Linked DNA regions of Homo sapiens: region 2 is linked to region 1. Evidence: fine-mapped expression QTL. Tissue or cell type: whole blood. Region 1 holds a variant in brackets; the other region holds the start of a gene. All regions are shown on one strand. Distances are between the middles of the regions.

Region 1 (2,915 bases):
TCCTCATCTGTAAAATGAGAGTGATAATAGCATCGACCTTGTAGAGTTGTTGGGAGGATTAAATGAGGTGATGAAGGTAAAGCACTTAGAAAGGGCTTGGTACACGGTCCATACTCAATGTTAGTTTCGTTTCACTGACAACTCCCAGCTGAATTTCTGCTCGCCAGGGATAGACTGTCTTTCCCCTTTTTCTCCACTAGGGGTGCTGCAACCTATTTCACGATACCGGGGAGATGTGCTCCATCTGGGAGGCCTTCCCCAGGTCAGATTTAGCCAGCCCTTCCTGGGTCACAGAGCTTACCCACTGGGACCTCTCGTGCCACCTCTCCCAGGGCCAATCCAACCCCACGTCTTGCCCCACTTACCTCCCAAGCAGCCCTCAAATTTCTCCCCTTCTCTCAACCCCCTGCTGTCTCCCTGACACAGGCTGCCATCGCGCTCATTACGCACCCACTCTCCCCTTCTCTCCACCCCATTGCTGCCTCCCTGGCACCAGCTGCCATTGTGCCCATGCCTCGCCCACTCTGCCCCTCCAGTGTTCCATCCAGAATGGACAGCTGTCCTCACTGTCCTTCCCTGAAGCCTTCACTGGCTCCTAAGTATGGTCCACTAGAGCCTCAGCTGCATAACGCACCCCTTCCTTTGCCAGCTGGGTTCCAGCCACACTGGCCTCACAAGCACCCTGCCCTCTCCCAGCTCAGGGCCTTGGCACATGCTGTTTCTGCCTCCTGGACCCTCTTTCCCCACCCTATCAGTCCTTATTCAACTCCTTTAGATGCTGACCTCCCCAGAGATGCCATCTCTGACCCTCCCACCACCAAGTACATCAAGGTCCCCCATGATGTCTTCATAGCACTCTGTACTTCCTCTCCTTAACCCTTATCACCGTTTATAATATGCAGTTGAATGGCTATTTGAGGAATATCTGCCTCCCCACTTCCTTTAAAAGCTTCCTGAGAGCAAGGCTGTGGATGTCTTTCATTATGTCCCCAGAGGGTTGGCATATGCCAGAGGAGTGAATGAATAAAAAGGGAATATTTCCTTATGTGTCTTTCTCGCATGTCAGGTCCCCATTCCCAGACTGATCCCCTACCCCACCTTGGCCTGGAACTTCAGTGGGAATCAACAAATGCTGTATGGATGAATGATAACACCCTTTTCCTGGTTTCCTTAAGGTTGATATTTTAACTACTCTTAAAGAAACTGTGATGTGTTGTGATAAAATATTATTATTATTATTTTATTTATTTATTTTTGAGACGGAGTCTTGCTCTGTCACCCAGGCTGGAGTGCAGTGGTGCAATCT[T/C]GGCTCACTGCAACCTCCACTTCTCAAGTTGAAGCAATTCTCAGCCTCTCAAGTAGCTGGGACTACAGGCGTGTGCCACCACGCCCGGCTAATTTTTTTTTTTTTTTTTTTTTTGAGACGGAGTCTTGCTCTGTCGCCCAGGCTGGAGTGCAGTGGCTCGATTTTGGCTCATTGCAAGCTCCGCCTCCTGGGATCACGCCATTCTCCTTCCTCAGCCTCTCGAGTAGCTGGGACCACTGGCGCCTGCCACCACGCCTGGCTAATTTTTTGTATTTTTAGTAGAGATGAGGTTTCACTCTGTTAGCCAGGATGGTCTCGATCTCCTGACCTCGTAATCTGCCTGCCTCGGCCTCTCAAAGTGCTGGGATTACAGGCGTGAGCCACCGCGCCTGGCTGATAAAATATTATTAATAATAATATCTACATGGGCATTGGAGCTGGCTGTCACTACCCGCTTATTCTCCCAGGAAGGCATATTCTTTGATCACGAATATCTCTGCAGGCCTCTGTAATTAACTTTCTCAGCCCTGATTGACCCTAGGGGATTGGCAAGACAGTGTCACTATTTTCCTGCTTTTACAGAAGAGAAAAATAGAGGTTTAGGAAAATTAAGGGGCATGCCCACGGGTGGCTGAGCTGGCCTTCTGTGTCCCAGCCCTGTCAGTTACCACTCCATACCTCCCAAAGCCTAGATTTTAAGCCACGCCACTGTACCCAGGGCCTAGTGCAGTGACTGGTGAGAAGGAGAATGGTTAGTAATGGTTGTTGAATGAATACATGAGTGAATGAATGCCTTCTGGAAAGTCTTTTCAGGAGAGGGCCTTAGCTGCAGGGGCCAGACCCCAGGATACCCTGTTCCCCCTTGAGAGACCACCCAAAGATGCTTTCTCTGGTCAGGGCTCTACCTTAGCTGGGAGCCCATGAGGAGAGGAGAAAAAGGGTTCCAGGCAAGGGGAAAAAGAGTCTCATACAGCAGCATCTCCTGAGTACAGCACTTAACAGTTTGCAAAGCCCTTGCATTCACTGCCTCTCCCTGGGATTTCAGAGGAGCTCTTCAAGAAGCCAGGGCAGAACAAATAAACACACAAGGGAAAAAAAAGGAAGAAAAGCTCTCTTTTCCCTCTTTGCAAAGCCAATATGTGTGTTCTTCGTAAACATTTGAGAACTATGCTGTCCAATGCAGTAACCACTAGCCACATGTGGCCACTTAAGTTTAAATTAATTAGAATTAAATACAATAAAAATTTCATTTTTCAGTCTCACTAGCCACATTTATTTATTTTATTTTGAGGCAGGGTCTTGCTCTGTTGCCCAGGCTGGAGTGCAGTGGTGCAATCATGGCTCACTGCAGCCTCAACCTCCTGGGCTCAGGCAATCCTCCCACCTCCGCCTCCCAAGTAGCTGGGACTACAGTCACACACCACCACACCCAGCTAATTTTTGTATTTTTTTATAGAGATAGGGTTTTGCTATGTTGCCCTGGCTGGTCTCAAACCCCTGGGCTCAAGTGATCTGCCCACCTGGACCTCCCAAAGTGCTGGGATTACAGGCATGAGCCACAGGGCCTGGCCAACTAGCCATATGTGAAGTATTCTGTATGTGGCTAATG
Region 2 (2,915 bases), 6.9 kb after region 1:
GCGCCTGTAGTCCCAGCTACTCGGGAGGCTGAGGCAGGAGAATGGTGTGAACCCAGGAGGCGGAGCTTGGAGCGAGCTGCCCTCCAGCCTGGGCAACAGAGCGAGACTCCGTCTAAAAAAAAAAAATTGGCCGGGCGCGGTGGCTCACGCCTGTAATCCAGCACTTTGGGAGGCCGAGGTGGGCGGATCACGAGGTCAGGAGATCGAGACCATCCTGGCTAACACGGTGAAACCCCGTCTCTACTAAAAATACAAAAAATTAGCCGGGCGAGGTGGCGGGCGCCTGTATTCCCAGCTACGCGGGAGGCTGAGGCAAGAGAATGTCGTGAACCCGGGAGGCGGAGCTTGCAGTGAGAGGAGATGGCGCCACGGCACTCCAGCCTGGGCGACAGCAAGACTCCGTCTCAAAAAAAAAAAAAAAAAAAAAGAAAGAAAGCAGGGAACGTCACTGAGAGGCTCTTACACAACTCCAGGCAAGAAACAGTGGTGCCTCGGACACAGGTAGTAACGGTGGAGACGGTGAGATTGCGGAAGCTTTGGAAGGTGGAGCTCATGCTATTCCTGATGGGTCAGTTTGGGGTGTAGAGATGGGACAGTTGAGTTTGTCAGCGGGAGGTCATCGATGACCTTGACAAGAGCAGTTTCAGTGGAGCGATGGGGGTGAAAGCCCCACAGAGAGAGCTGGAGAGAGAAAAGGAAGGAGGGATGAAGATGGTCAATTCAGAAAACACTGAGATGTTTTCCTGGAAGGGGGAGCAAAGAAATATGACGGTGTGGGTGTGGGGGTGTGTGTGCATGGGCTTGTGCATGTGTGTGTGTGTGTGTACAATTGGAAGAACTGCAGCCGATTGTGTGGTGATGTGAATGAGCCAGCAGAAGAGGGGGACCCCTGGAGCTGTGGGAGAGACGCAAGGAATTGCTCACTGTTGTCCTGGAGGAGGTGAGAGAGGATGAAGGGCAGTGTCCCAGTGGAGGGCGTAGAATTCAAGTTCCACAAGGCGTCCAGGTAACAGGCACGGATACAGGCGGGAGTGAAGGGAGAGGTGGAGTCTGAGGAAGTTTCCTTCTGATTGCTTCTGTTTCCCAGTGAAACAGAAAGCAAGGTCTCCAGCAGCTGACAGCTAGTACAGCAGGTTCTTTTTTTCTCAGGTGTTATAGATAGCTGCGCCTTCCGCTCACCACAGGTGAAATGGTTGGCTTGTATCTGGGGCCACACCACATAAAAACCATTTGAACAGCAGGATCACACTCAGCATGATGAGAGCCCACATGAGGCTGGAAGTGCAGGAACTTGGACCGGCGGGGGGAACCTGGCAGGTCACATTCCCTCTCAAGGGGTGAGTGCTCACCAAGTGGAATTGGAGTGTGACTCTGTAGCAGTGATTCATGCACAACGTGCTCTCTCTCTCTCTCCCCTCCCTTTACACGCGTGTTTAAATGTGTGTAAATTAGGCTGGGTGCAGTGGCTCACGCCCGTAATCCCAGCACTTTGGGAGGCCAAGGTGGGCAGATCACTTGAGGCCGGGAGTTCGAGACCAGCCTGGGCAACCTGGTGAAACACCGTCTCTGTGAAAAATACAAAAATTAGCCGGGCGTGGTGGTGCACATCTATAACCGCAGCTACTTGGGAGGCTGAGGCATGAGAATCACTTGAGCCCAGGAGGTGGAGGTTGCAGTGAGCCGAGATCACGCCATTGCACCCCAGCCTGGGTGACAGAGCAAGACCCTGTCTCAAAGAGAAAAAAAAAATGTGTGTAAGTTAAATGCACCATGATGAAGACTCCACTATAAATGGTGCCGCTGGAACCTCGGGCCTCCTGACTCCACATCAGTTTTGTCTCTACTATAATACTCCATCTCTCATCACACATCACTAGGGAGCACCAAAATTGCAGGGAAGAGGGTAACCCAGGCTGAAAGGAGGAAGAGAGCACTTAAACTAGAAAATTCTAGAACATCAGACCTCGATGGACCTTCACAGATCATTTGGTCCAACACCCTTATTTGACAGACATGGAAAATGTCATTCACTGACTCCCCCAATATCACACAACAGAATCCTCATCATCCCCATCATCATCCCCATCATCATCATCCCCATCATCATCATCACCATCACCATCATCCCCATCATCATCATCCCCATCACCATCATCCCCATCACCATCATCCCCACCATCATCATCCCCATCATCACCATCATCCCCATCATCATCATCCCCATCACCATCATCCCCATCACCATCATCCCCACCATCATCATCCCCATCATCATCATCACCATCATCATCATCCCCATCATCATCACCATCACCACCATCATCATCATCCCCAACATCACCATCATCATCATCCCCATCATCATCACCATCACCATCACCATCATCATCATCCCCATCACCATCATCACCATCACCATCAACATCACCATCATCACCATCACCATCATCCCCATCATCACCATCATCATCACCATCACCATCATCCCTATCATTATCATCCTCCTCCTGATCACCATAATTGTCATCTGCATGGAAGCTAGCCTATATTGATTACTCCCTGCTGCCAAGCTGTGTCCCATTTCATCATCAAAGCCTCTTGAGGTGGCCACTCTCATTATTTTCATTTTACAGGTGGTGAAACATCACAGAGCAGGTAAGGTATAAACTGGGAGACCCTCCTCCCACCCACTCTGTGAAAACCTTTACTAGAGATCTCGCATTGGGCCACTAACCCTAAGATAGGAGGCAGAAGGGGGCTCCCCTTGAAACTCGAAAGAAGTAAATTTAAGACCAGTAAAGGGAAGTTTTGCTTCACACAGAGGGGGTACTGGCTAAAAATACTAGTGGCTTCAAGAAGTATTTAGATCAGTTCATAGATAGTTGATCACAAGGCAGTCAGAGTGATCTTTTAAA

Evidence for each region.
Region 2: MDS2 starts here. The variant in region 1 is fine-mapped to the expression of MDS2 in whole blood (TOPMed, PIP above 0.99).

Annotation. Positions count from the first base shown.
Region 1 is chr1:23,632,417-23,635,331 of GRCh38, reverse strand. The region is part of intron 4 of MDS2 (myelodysplastic syndrome 2 translocation associated); the gene reads right to left. Among named protein-coding and RNA genes, the nearest start is that of MDS2, 6.5 kb to the right of the region's middle. The variant T/C (reference allele first, on the strand shown) is at 1,307.
Region 2 is chr1:23,625,547-23,628,461 of GRCh38, reverse strand. It overlaps MDS2 (myelodysplastic syndrome 2 translocation associated), which reads right to left and starts at 1,128. Exons shown (of 6, transcript NR_167910.1): 1 at 925-1,128; 2 at 464-681. RefSeq lists an enhancer at 2,555-2,674.